3 linked regions of the Homo sapiens genome follow. Changing the gene in region 3 together with the main gene of any one other region gives a genetic interaction. Each region holds a gene or a part of one and is shown on either strand. Other genes may lie near its edges.

Region 1 (4,247 bases), about 150 Mb from region 3:
AAGTCCATGAAGGGACGTGGCTTGCCTGATGTCACAGTTAAGTTTATGGAAAGCCAGAACTGCCACTCAGGTCTCCTGAGCCTAATGCTTTTTTCCATCCACAGCATGGCTGAACTACAATATGAGATAAAGTTTACTTTAACAGCAACACGAGGCCGGGCATGGTGGCGCATGCCTGTAACCTCAGCACTTTGTGAGGCCAAGGCAGGCAGATGACTTGAGAGTCCAGGAGTTTGAGACCAGCCTGGGTGACATGGTGAAACCCCGTCTCTACAAAAAATACAAATATTAGCTAGGCGTGGTGGCATGCACCTGCAGTCCCAGCTACTCAGGAGGCTGAGGCAGGAGGATTGCTTGAGCCTGGGAGGTGGAGGTTGCGGTGAGCCAAGATCGCACCACTGTACTATGAACTAGGTTAGGCCTCCTTCATATTCAGTGAGGGTGCAAGTCCACAGGTTACTTTGTTCAAGCACAGAATGCCTGAATCCCACACTACAGGATGGGGAATTTTCCACGTTCATGGAATGTTGACACAGCAACAGTACCTTCAATCTTCCACCTTTCACCCATGCAAGCAAACGCCACTTTTGATTCTGACATTCTTTCCTTTGGCCATGAAATAATATGGCTCGAAAAAATCTTATTTCACTTCATCCTATTCCTTTTTAAAGAATTCATCTTTTAGATGAATTATAGAAGGCTGCTTTTAATATCAACCTCAAGGCTATGAACAGTCAGCTAAGATACAAAGATGTGAACAGCAGGCATGCATTCTAGGCGTTGGCTATTCTAGCAATCAAAGATCGAGACGTTTATGTCACCAAGCTAACCCCTGGGAGACCACGGTGGCCTTTCTCCACGCACTTCATCACTTAGACACGCCCATGTTGCCAATTGGCTTTAAAGAGTAGCCCAGAACTTGCCCAGTCACAGCAGGGTTCTCCAGTTCCCACTTTTGCAGCAATGCCTTGGAAGATGGTCTTGATGTGGGGCCTGTGTAAAGAAACAGTGTGGTTCAGTTAATGAGAAGAGACGGGCTGAGAGCCCATACCCATAGACACCAACATACCCATAGACACCAACCCCTATCTTTTCCTTTCTTTTTTTTTTTTTTTGAGACAGGGTCTCACGTTGTCACCCAGGCTGGAATGCAGTGGTGTGATCTCAGCTCACTGCAGCCTCCTCAACCTCCCAGGTTCAAGTAATCTTCCTGCCTCGGCCCCCTAAGTGGCTAAGACTACAGGTATGTGACACCACACCCAGCTCATTTTTTTGGATTTTGTAGAGATGGGGTTTTGCCATGTTGCCCAGATTGGTCTCGAACTCCTGAGCTCAAGTGATCCACCCACCGTGGATACCCAATGTGCTGGGATTACAGGCATAAGCCACCACCGCACTGGGCCCATCTTTTTCTTTCTAATGGGAGGTGGAAGTGCCCACAAAAAGATAATGAATGTGCTAAGTTCTCAAGGTCAACTGCAGACCCTTGACTGAAACTGGCCCCTCCTCCAGGTCCTGGTGGGCCCTCAAAGCAGACTGGACTATCGGACTGAGACTACAGACAGAAAGGCTGAGCAGAAGCATCACCAAAGCACCAGAAGAAATGTCTTCTTAGAGACAGGGTCTCACTCTGTTGCCCAGGCTGGAGTGCAGTGGCACAATCACGGCTCCCTGCAGCCTCAAACTCCTGGACTTAGGTGATCCTCCTGCCTCAGCCTCCCAAGTAGGTGGGGCTACAGGTGTGTGCCATCACACCCAGCTAATTAAAAACTTTTTTTTGTAGGGACAGGATCTTGCTATGTTGCCCAGGCTGGTGTTGAGCTCCTGGCCTCAAGCAATCCTCACACCTCAGCTTCCCAAAGTGCTGGGACCATAGGCGTGAGCCACCATGCCTGGCTAATTTTTTGTTGGTGGTGCAGAGATGGGGTCTCCCTATGTTGATGTGGCTGGTCTTGAACTCCTCGGATCAAGCACTCCTCCCACCTCAGCCTCTTGAGTCACTGAAATTACAGGCATAAGCCATCGCACCCGGCTCAGAAATTTCTACTGCAGCAGCAGCAGACAGTATGATTGCAAACAGCAGGCAATACGAAAGTTCCTTTAGAGATCCTCTTTTAATTTTTTCCCTTTTCTTTATTTCTCCTTATAATGGCTTTTAGCAAGTGAAGAGACCCTCTTTCATTTGTCTGGATGTGTGCTGCCAGGCACAGAATGGTTCTGGACATTTGGATTAAGAACCAGGCAGCGTTTTTGAGAGCTACATTACCATTCAGAGAAAGGCCGCTGTTCATTCCTTCCACAGCTCAGCACGCGGATATATTACTCTTGAGACTTTCCCTCACTGTTCTGCTCCCTAATGGCCAGTCAAGGCTTCCTCACAAAAAGTTTCTGGTACAGACATGAAATCTTACAGGGTTGCAAAGTTAACATTTAGGATTAGGGATGAAGACAGCCACACCGGAAACCGCAGAGCTTCACTGAACTTTTACAGTGTCCTTCTGGTAAAGGTGCCATTTGTACTTCTGCCACCACAGTATGAGGAAAGAGAACTGATGGAAACAACTGGAGCACTCCATATGTCAAATACTTTTACGTGCATTGTCTGCTGGTTGCCTTTCTAACTGCTCACTGTGCAGGTGCTTCGAGATAAGTATTTTCAAACCTTTTTTTTTTTTCTTAAGAAACAGGGTCTTGCTATGTTGTCCAGGCTGGCCTTGAACACCTGGGCTCAAGCAGTTCTCTCACCTCAGTCTCCTGAATAGCTGGCACTACAGGTGCAAGCCACTGCACACACAGCTGTTTAAACTTCTGAGAAGCAGAAAGGCCTCTCTACTTCTGTGTTTTATTAATAACACACTGAAGAGAATCCCCAGACTCATTCACCAGAAAGGTAATTAAAAAAATTATTTTTGGCTGGGCGCAGTGGCTCACACCTGTAATCCCAGCACTTTGGGAGGCTGAGGCAGGCAGATCACGAGATCAGGGGATCAAGACCATCCTGGCTAACACGGTGAAACCCCGTCTCTACTAAAAATACAAAAAATTAGCTGGGCGTGGTCGTGGGTGCCTGTAGTTCCAGCCACTTGGGAGGCTGAGGCGAGAGAATGGCGTGAACCTGGCAGGTGGGGCTTGCAGTGAGCAGAGATCGCGCCACTGCACTCTGCACTCCAACCTGGGCAACAGAGCAAGACTCCGTCTCAAAAAAAGAATCATTTTTTCTTTTTTACTGAGACCGAGTCTCGCTCTGTCACCCATGATGGAGTGCAGTGGTGAGATCTCGGCTCATTGCAACCTCTGCCTCCCAGGTTCAAGTGATTCTTGTGCCTCAGCCTCCCATGTAGCTGGGATTAGAGGTGCCCTCCACCATGCCCGGCTAATTTTTGTATTATTAGTAGAGAGTTTCACCATGTTGGCCAGGCTGGTCTTGAACTCCTGACCTCAAGTGATCCTCCCATCTCAGTCTCCCAAAGTGCTGGGATTACAGGCGTGAGCCACCATGCCCAGCCTTAAAGAATCATATTTCAGACCAGGCACGGTGGCTCACGCCTGTAATCCCAGTACTTTGGGAGGCCAGGGCAAGCGGATTGCCCACAATTATTTATATATATATCGGATTGCCCACAATTATTTATATATATGTGTGTGTGTGTGTGTGTGTGTGTATTTTTTGTTTGTTTTGTTTTGTTTTGTTTTTGAAACAAACTCTCACTCTGTCGCCAGGGTGAAGTGCAGTGGCGCGATCTCGGCTCACTAACCTCTGCCTCCTAGGTTCAAGCAATTCTCCTGTCTCAGCCTCCCAAGTAGCTGGGACTACAGGCGCACGCCACCATGCCCGGCTAATTTTTGTATTTTTAGTAGAGACAGGAATTTACCATGTTGGCCAGGATCGTCTAGATCTCCTGACCTGGTGATCTGCCTGCCTCAGCCTCCCGAAGTGCTGGGATTACAGGCGTGAGCCACCACGCCCGGCCAATTTATATTTTTTAATTAAAAAAATGTTTGTTTTACTTTTTTGTAGAAACAGGATCTCGCTATGTTGTCCAGGCTAGTCTTCAACTCCTGGGCTCAAATGATCATTCACCGCAGCTTCCCAAAGTGCTGGGCAGTGATTACAGGCATGGGCCACTATGCCCAGCCTGTTACCCACGATTATCACATTAAGTTACTTTTGGGTTATATATCAGCTAAAAGAGGCAGACCTTATTCCTACATCCAGACATTGCACAGAACATTACCTAAACTGCTTC
Region 2 (3,847 bases), on a different chromosome or scaffold from region 3:
AGGTCGCCAACTTGCCCTCAAATGGGTCAGGAAAAAATGTTCTCTTACTGTGCCTGTGACTTCTGCACATTCTGAGAGTCTTTGAACATAAACGTGTGTGCAGAGCTGGCGACATTCTGTTGCTGAGATGGACTCATCTCTGGTTCTGCGCACGAGAGTTTGCCAACTGCAGAAGTAGAATTGTGCAATTCCAATTAATAAGTATTGGCTCTGAGTGTGTTTATTTTTCCAGGAAAGTAACATGTTTTTAAACAGGTAAATACATTAGTGTGGCATCATAATGCTCTATTCCAAGTTAAAAGGGTAAAGGTTATTGTCCCAACATGGAGAAAATTCCAGAATTAAGCATTTAAAATAATAGGACCTACCTGTTGATTTGCCAGAGAAATTCCAACAGTTTCAAAAAACTGTTCAAAGTAAGAGATGATGGCACCAAACACAGCAGGACTTCTCGGCCCTTCAGGTTCCTGTAAGAGATCATGTCGCAGAAGCTCCTTAAAAGCAGTCTTGATGGCAGTGGGCAAACGGAATTCAATGTCAAAAGACAAAGGCTTCAGCAGGTCACTTCAGTCTGGCCTTTCTCCTGGCTTCTATGGAGGGAGGACACAGCTCTGGCATCGGCTACCTCACTGCAGACCATACAACTATAGGTGCATGAGGAATCTCTTGTGCCTCAGTTTACCCATCAGTCATGTGGGTGGTGACTAGCTCATCAGGCTTCGCGGGTGAAGCATGACCGTGGAGTATGGCAGGTGGCGCATGGTAGGTGGAGGCTGAGTGGGCACTGGGCTGGGTTTCTCAGAAAACGGGGAAATCCTGGTACGTGGCTCACATCAGTTACCAAGCACAGAGACCCTTGGGTGACACTAGCCTTAGTTTGCAGGTGCCCCAGAATTGCAAAGCTTGGGAAGGAAAAGCGCAGGACAAAAGCCAGCCTCTTTACTTGTCCCGCCCCTTGCCACAAGAGGCCCCTGTTGCCCTAGAGCTGGGCCAGCCTGGTAGTGCCGGCAGCAGCTGCGGTGAAGGCAGGAGGCCGCGGACGGGCTGAGGAGGAGGAGCTCCCGTGCAGGAGCAGCCTGGCTGCGGGACCTGCCCCAGCCCGGCCTGGCTGCCTTCAGTGCGGGGCAGCCTGTTCCTGCAGCCGGCTGTGACTCAAATGCCCGCCCCCCTCAGAGGCGAGCCCTGCGCGTCTGCAGTATTTGGACCGAAGGCACCCGGCAAGGGCACATGGCACCCTGCCCCACCTGCTGGTGCTCTGAAACCCAACACTGCACGCAGCCAGGGATGGAGACCTCCACAGAGATGCTCAACTAACAGAGCATGTGGCCAGAACCCCCAGGTGTTTCCAGAGGTGGGAGAGGCACAAACAGCCTCGGCTTCCCGGGTCATCAAAGGTCACGGGGCTCCTGACGCAGCGCCTCCCAGGGCCTGGCAGGGGACCCTCAGACGTGCAGGAACCAAAGCCTGCCGCCGCCTTCACGGTCTTTGTCCCACCTGCCAAACACTTGCAGTGACCCACGAGTCCAGGCTCAGACCCCTGGGTGCTTGGTGTGGTCATCACACTGGGGTGCAGATTGCATAACAGTGCCTTGGGGTAAATGGGTCTTTCCTTAAAAAGTTCCCCACAAAAGCTCTCTCTGTGAAAGGGCCATGAATGCAGTGGGGACATGAGATGTGTCCCCTGAGGATCAAGCACACAGAATTTCTCAGCCTCAGGGGCTCCTGAGAGCTTGTTCCCCAGGTGGCCCTGAGGCCCGGGAGGGTCAAGCCCCAGGCTGGGTGCCATCCCGTGTGTCAGCGGCAGACTCGGGCTCCATGAGTTCCTCCACAGAAGCTGCGGGAGGCGAAATCAGCAGAGATGCCACCCAGCCGACATGAGAAAAACCCACCAGAGGACCCGACCCATGCCCCTGGCAGCAGGACCGCAAGGCCACCTGTTCGTTGAGCTACCTTCAGGGACGCCCTGAGCTGTCCATTCCCGTGGTGTGCAAGGCCCAGGATGGCATCAACCACCCTGGGTGTGTCAAAATCATCTGCCAAGGCCGCCTTCACGGCCCTCTTGGTGCTGGAGAGCCTGAGGGAAGAGGAGAGAACAGTCACAGCAGAGGGAGCTCCACTCTCCCCAGGCGGCCCCCACACCAGTCCTTCCCCAGGGAGAGACGCTGGGGGCTCTAATCTGGGGACTTTCTCTAGGTCATATTCCCAAAGACTTGAGTTCCTGAGTAGCAGAAAATTATGTAACATCAACTGCAAACTGTCATGTTACCCCAAGAAAAAGTCCCAGAGCAGAGGTCACCTGTGACACTTAAAATACAAGACACACGTGGGCATTTTCATGATGGTTTTAAAAATCAATAGATATTGAGGGGAGTGGCAAGGAAGACTCGGTGGGGGAGAGACGGCACGGCTGACCACTCACAAAGAGAGGCTGGGGAGGCCCAGCCCGGGGCTCCCGGATCTCAGCCTCCCGTGGCCACTGGCTGCCTACCCTGCTGAAGTGGCAGGGGTGGGTTATCACCAAGACCATCCGGAAGACTCTGCATGCCGGGATGAATGTGCAGCGCTGCCCAGGACACCCGTGGGTGGGGAGTGGAGGCGATGCTGTGGGCCCAGGCCTGTGTGTTTTATAGATTTTGGCTCCTCACAGTCAGGACTGGGAGGGATGAGCAGCTCCGCTCCTCGCACAGGGAACCCGAGCCCAAAGCCACTCTGAGCAGGGGGCTCAGAGCCCGAGGGCCCCAGGCACACTTCCTGCCAGCGCCGTCTCCCTGGGATGTCTCGGGAGCCCCTGACCCCACACCTCCTGTCCAGCACCCAGTGTCCTGTGGCCTCTGGGGAGCCCCTGACCCCACACCTCCTGTCCAGCTCCCAGTCCCCTGTGGCCTCTGGGGAGCCCCTGACCCCACACCTGCACCTCCTGCCCAGCACCCTGTCTCCTGGGGCCTCTCTGGGCAGTCCCTGACCCCAAACCTCCTGTCCAGCGCCCTGTCTCCTGGGGGCCCCTCTTCCCCTTCAAGAGCCCACCAGCAGCACCCAGCAGGCCACAGGAGGGGTGCCACGCCGGGTGCTAGGCGGGCCTCTTACCTCTCCCACAGCATCGCTTCCCTGACGGAGCCGCAGGCCAGCTGCCCCTTCATGTAGGCACGTGCGTCCTCCAGGAAAGAGCCCAGCCCCAGGAGCAGCTGCTGAGCTTGGAGCATGGCGCTGTCACTGTAGTCGATGGCTGAGGAGGAAGAGATGGTCACTGAGGCGGTGCCCACCATGCTGTGCCCCTGCCCTGGTCCAGCAGAATCAGTGTTTTCTGAGGGCACTGCCACCCAGGGACCACACGGAGAGCGGGACATGTGGCTCTCACGCCCTCCAGTGACCGCGAGTCCCTAGGCCCACTGGACACAGACCACAGGGTCTGTCCCAGCTCAGTGGCACCTGCCGTGGGAGAACAAGGTGGCGGTGGAGACATGCTCCCAGTGCTTCCAGCCAAGAGGTGCATTTCCACTGACTGGATGGAGGTGCGGATGAATGGCTGGCTCTGGAAAGAAGGAGCCCCGCCCTGGATGGATGGAGGTGCGGATGAATGGCTAGCTCTGGAAAGAGGGAGCCCCGCCCTGGGGTCAGAGGCACCTCTAGGGAAGGCCCTCCCGAGGGAAAGTGCCTGTGTGTGATGGGACAGCCCAAAGAGGGAGGGAGGAGCAGTCCCCAGACCTGGCTTTAGAGTCTGTGGGTGTTTCTTAGGCCACCTGGATGAGGGGCCAGTGTTTCTGTTTACATCTGTTCATTTCTTGTGGTTTCTAGTCTACTGCATTCTGATGGGTAAGACAACAGGAGTGAATCGCTTTGCAATGATCAC
Region 3 (4,994 bases):
CTCAACCCTCAAATTGCTTCTAACTAGGAGATTAGGAGTCAAGCAGATTCCACAAAGAGTTGTTTTGCTTAAATAAGGACAATGTTTTATAGAGAGTGAGTCCTACTGGGTAGCAGTAGTAGGCAGGGATATTCCCTAGAATGCCACAGACCCTATAACATCCTACTCTTTCACTCCTCACTCCCCCATTAGATCTTCTGGCAAGTCAACTATCAAGTTCAGAGGCCAAAAACTGCAGACTGTCACAGAAAACACAAAATCCTGTCCCACACTCACAGCCAGTACTTGCTAGAAGAAAAAATAAAAGCAGACTTAAGGACCCTTAGGTTCTTCACTTCCCTCAACAAAAAGATTACCATCACAGGCAAGAACCAGGGCAGAAAAGCTCTAAGTTCTGCAATTTTATAAAACCTCCCCTCTCTTACCCCCATATTGAGACAAAGACAAATATAGGGCAAGTCTCTGTCTGAGCCAAAATATGAACAGAGGAAGCTGATCAGCTGATTTTCTTTACAGAGCTTTGTTCTGTGGAATAGGAAGTCATTAATGGAAATGTCCTCCCTCTCTACTGCCTCCCCCTCAGGGAAGTAAAAAGTCATTTTAAATCAAACTGAACACTGCCCCAGGGAACAGTTGATACAGACACTTAATTTAATAAGTAATTTAGTCTCTCATTTTTTTTATTCCATTAAACTGTCTATTGGACCAGACTGAAATCCAGAAAGTGCTTGTCTCTAAGGCTATGATTTGGAAGTAATAAAAAGTCAAATTAAGGCAAAAGCATCCATCTGACAGTTGACTCAGATTCAGAAGTAATGAAAATACAGAAAGAACTGAATTTTAATTGCCTTCTTGGAAGCAAAACTAGGGAGACTACAAAATATAAAATCTTTTCTTTTTTTTTTTTTTGAGACTGAGTTTCACTTTTGTCACCCAGGCTAGAGTGCAGTGGCATGATCTTGGCTCACTGCAACCTCTGCCTCCTGGATTCTCCTGCCTCAGCCTCCCAAGTAGCTGGGATTACAGGCACATGCCACCACCCCCAGCTAATTTTTGTATTTTTTTTTTTTTTTTTGAGACGGAATTTCGCTCTTGTTGCCCAGGCTGGATGGAGTACAATGGCATGATCTCAGCTCACTGAAACCTCTGCCTCCCGGGTTCAAGCAAGTCTCCTGCCTCAGCCTCCCGAGTAGCTGGGATTACAGGCATGTGCCACCATGCCCGGCTAATTTTGTATTTTTAGTAGAGACAGCGTTTCTCCATGTTGGTAAGGCTGGTCTCGAACTCCCGGCCTCAGATTATCCGCCCGCCTCGGCCTCCCAAAATGCTGAGATTACAGGCGTGAACCACTGTGCCCGCCTATTTTTTTTTTAGATGGGGTCACTCTGTCACCCAGGCTGAAGTGCAGTGGCACAATCTCGGCTCAGTGCAACCTCCGCCTCCCAGGCTCATTCGATCCTCCCACCTCAGCCTTACGGGTAGCTGGGACCACAGGCGCACACCACCATACCTGGCTAATTTTAGAAACCAGTTTTGAGCAGACGATGAGGTCACATAGGAGGCAACATGGACAGTTTCCAATCTATTAAATGATTCCTGCCATGTGCAGTGGCTCGCGCCTGTAATCCCAGCACTTTGGGAAGCCAAGAGTTCAAGACCAGGCTGGCCAACATGGTGAAACCCCATCTCTACTAAAAAATACAAAAAAAAAAAAATTTGCTGGGTGTGGTGGCAGGCACCTGTAAGGCTGGCCAACATGGCAAAATCCCGTCTCTACTAAAAATACCAAAAAAAAAAAAAAATTAGCTGGCCGTGGTTGTGGGCACCTGTAATCTCAGCTACTTGGGAGGCTAAGGCAGGAGAATCACTTGAACCTGGGAGGTGGAGGTTGCAGTGAGCTGAGATTGCACCATTGCACTCCAGCCTGGGCAATGGAGCAAGACTCTGTCTCAAAAAAAAAAAAAAAAAAAAAAGATTCCTAACCTCAATATTGAAACCTGGAATTCTTGGCACCCAGTTTCTATTAAAGTTGGCCCAATTCTGTCCAACATCTCAAAACAGAAATGCAATATAATGTGTAGATAAGAAAAGGTAATCTATTTGAGTCCTGTCAGAAGCACTACTCTGGGTCAACAGGAACGGAAGAATGAAAGCAGCAACAATGGTTATCTAGCTCATAACTGAATCCCCAGTGTCTACAACAGTACCTGACACATAAATAGGTACCAATTAATATTTATGTCATAAACATGCATTCTATGCCTTCAGGGATCTCTTTTAAATATCCCTCTTAAAAATGAAGAGTTCAGCAGGGCACAGTGGCTCACGTCTGTAATCCTAGCACTTTGGGAAGCTGAGAGGGGTGGATCACAAGGTCAGGAGTTTGAGACCAGCCTGGCTAACATGGGGAAACCCCATCTCTACTAAAAATACAAAAAATTAGCCGGGCGTGGTGGGAGGCGCCTGTAGTCCCAGCTGCTCGGGAGGTTGGGGCAGGAGAATCTCTTGAACCCAAGAGGTGGAGTTTGCAGTGACCCAAGATCGCGCCAACTGCACCCCAGCCTGGGAGACAGAGCGAGACTTTGTCTCAAAAAATAAAATTAAATTAAATTAAAAAAGGAAGAGTTCCCAATGAGACCCTGCAAGTATCTGTGAGGCCTATACCATTGCTCAGCTACACCACCAGCAGGACTGCCAGGTAACACACAGGGGAACTTGTGAACTTGTCTGGCTTTCCCCAAGAGGACTCTGAGTCACAACTAACCTTAAGAACAGCACTAGCTGGGCGCGGTGGCTCACGCCTATAATCCTAGCACTTTGGGAAGCTTAGGCAGGCGGATCACTTAAGGCCAGGAGTTTGAGACCAGCCTGGCCAACATGGTGAAACCCCATCTCTACTAAAAATACAAAAACCAGGAGTGGTGGCATGCGTCTATAACGCCAACTACTTAAGAGGCTGAGGCACAGGAATCTCTTGAACCCAGGAGGCAGAAGTTGCAGTGAGCTGAGATCGCACCACTGCACTCCAGCCTGGGCAATAGAGCGAGACTCCACTCTTGGGAAAAAAAAAAAAGAACAGCACTAAACCCAGTAATGAAGGAAAGAATCCTCCCAGTCTCCCCACTCCCTTCACAGAGAAAATGTGCAAATCCCGAATTAACTTACCAAGTGTCGGATCCCATTCCAGGTATGATACATGAGAGGGAAGACAAGTGCAAACTTAGCTGTGTGGATCAGTGCTGGCCCCAGACACAGGGACTTCACAAGTTCCAAATAAGACTCAAAGTTCCCAGGGAGTAACAGGGCCGACATGCCAAAAAGAGAGACCCCTGAGGAGAAAACCAAGTAGCTTGTCACAGCTGCTCATAAGTTACAACTAATATGATACATAAAACTGGGACCCCTGGCACCTCATACAATTCTAAACCATTTTGAAATGGAGAAGATTTTTGTTTTCTTTTTTTCTTGAGACAGAGTCTCATTCTGTCACCCAGGCTGGAGTATAGTGGTGCAATCTTGGCTCACTGCAACCTCCACCTCCCAAGTTCAAGCGAGTCTCCTGCTTCAGCCTCCTGAGTAGTGGGGATGACAGGTGCCCACCACAACGCCCAGCTAATTTTTGTATTTTTAGTAGAGACAGGGTTTCACCAAGTTGGCCAGGCTGGTCTCGAACTCCTGACCTCAAGTGATCTGCCCACCTTTGCCTCCCAAAGTGCTGAGATTACAGGTGTGAGCCACTGCACCCGGCCTTGAAAAGGAGAAGATTTAAACTCATGTTCAAGTTTATGATGGGAGACAGACTACTTGGGATCTCATCATAAACTAAATGTGCCATATGTTTTAGTATGTTATTCCTCCTTTCAACATCCGTCTCTATAAAAACTTCACTTGCCAGTTTAGACATCAAGCCTTGCTATATCATCTAGTTCATCATCTAACTAAGAAAAGGTAAAAACAGTGTACTCAGTCCAGAGAAGAGTCAGAAAAAAAATTAGGTTCTCTTTTTTTTTTTTTTTTTTTTGAGACAGAGTCTCGCTCTGTTGCCCAGGCTAGAGTGCAGTAAGCGTGATCTCAGCTCACTGCAACCTCCGCCTCCTGGGTTCAAGCCATTCTTGTGCCTCAGCCTCCCAGGTAGCTGGCCTTATAGATGCATGCCACCATGCCTCGCTAATTTTTGCATTTTTAGTAGAGACAGGGTTTTGCCATGTTGGCCAGGCTGGTCTCAAACTCCTGGCCTCAAGTGATTCGCCCACCTCAGCCTCCCAAAGCGCTGGGATTACCAGCATGAGCCACTGCGCCTGGCCCTTTTTTTATCTTTATCTTCTAGTGTTGCTACCTCTGAAGAGAGGAAAAATTTTAAATCATTCAAATCTCTATTACACAAAAATTTAAATTAAAATGAATTAGAGACCTAAATGCTAGAACTAAAACTATAAAACTCTTAGTAGAAAGCATAGAAATAAATCTTCATGATCTTGGATTAGGCAGTGGTTTCACAGATGACACCAAAATCATAAATGACAAAAGAAAAAACAGATGAATTGGATTTCATCAAAATTACTAACTTTTGTGCTGCAAATAATACCATCAAGAAAGTGAAAAGACAACTCAAAGGAATGGGAGAAAATATTTGCAAATCATGGAGGACTTTTATCCAGAATACATAAAAAACTCTTACAACTCAATCAATAAAATGACAAATGGATCTGAATAGACATCTTTCCAAGGACGATAAATAAATGGCCAATCAGTGCATGAACAGGTGCTTAACATCATTAGCCATTAGACAAATGCAAATCAAAACCATAATGATATAATGTAACTGCTATGTGTATATACTTGGAAGATTATTTCCCTATGTGAAAGAAAAAGTATGAATATTTTAATGTCTGACAGGGCTGCATTATCTGTTGGAGCTCAGTGGCTATCGACCACCAATGACTGAGAAATCAAGTATAACAAATATGAAACTCAAATTAGAAATAAGATGTTAT

The links. A genetic interaction does not mean that the proteins touch.
Region 1: changes in SDHC (region 3) and PGD together harm fitness more than expected from each alone (negative genetic interaction), as found in Homo sapiens cells (one large-scale study listed by BioGRID).
Region 2: changes in SDHC (region 3) and CARS2 together harm fitness less than expected from each alone (positive genetic interaction), as found in Homo sapiens cells (one large-scale study listed by BioGRID).

What each region holds. Positions count from the first base shown.
Region 1 is NC_000001.11:10,404,817-10,409,063, reverse strand, and holds part of PGD (6-phosphogluconate dehydrogenase, decarboxylating), read right to left. Parts: intron 994-4,247; coding exon 924-993; intron 1-923. UniProt on the Homo sapiens protein: Catalyzes the oxidative decarboxylation of 6-phosphogluconate to ribulose 5-phosphate and CO(2), with concomitant reduction of NADP to NADPH.
Region 2 is NC_000013.11:110,644,017-110,647,863, forward strand, and holds part of CARS2 (probable cysteine--tRNA ligase, mitochondrial), read right to left. Parts: intron 3,224-3,847; coding exon 3,085-3,223; intron 2,616-3,084; coding exon of another isoform or gene 2,345-2,615; exon of another isoform or gene 2,081-2,344; intron 2,075-2,080; coding exon 1,951-2,074; intron 591-1,950; coding exon of another isoform or gene 567-590; exon of another isoform or gene 468-566; coding exon 369-467; intron 167-368; exon of another isoform or gene 49-166; intron 1-48. UniProt on the Homo sapiens protein: Mitochondrial cysteine-specific aminoacyl-tRNA synthetase that catalyzes the ATP-dependent ligation of cysteine to tRNA(Cys). In addition to its role as an aminoacyl-tRNA synthetase, has also cysteine persulfide synthase activity.
Region 3 is NC_000001.11:161,355,012-161,360,005, reverse strand, and holds part of SDHC (succinate dehydrogenase cytochrome b560 subunit, mitochondrial isoform 1 precursor), read right to left. Parts: intron 3,330-4,994; coding exon 3,166-3,329; intron 1-3,165. UniProt on the Homo sapiens protein: Membrane-anchoring subunit of succinate dehydrogenase (SDH) that is involved in complex II of the mitochondrial electron transport chain and is responsible for transferring electrons from succinate to ubiquinone (coenzyme Q).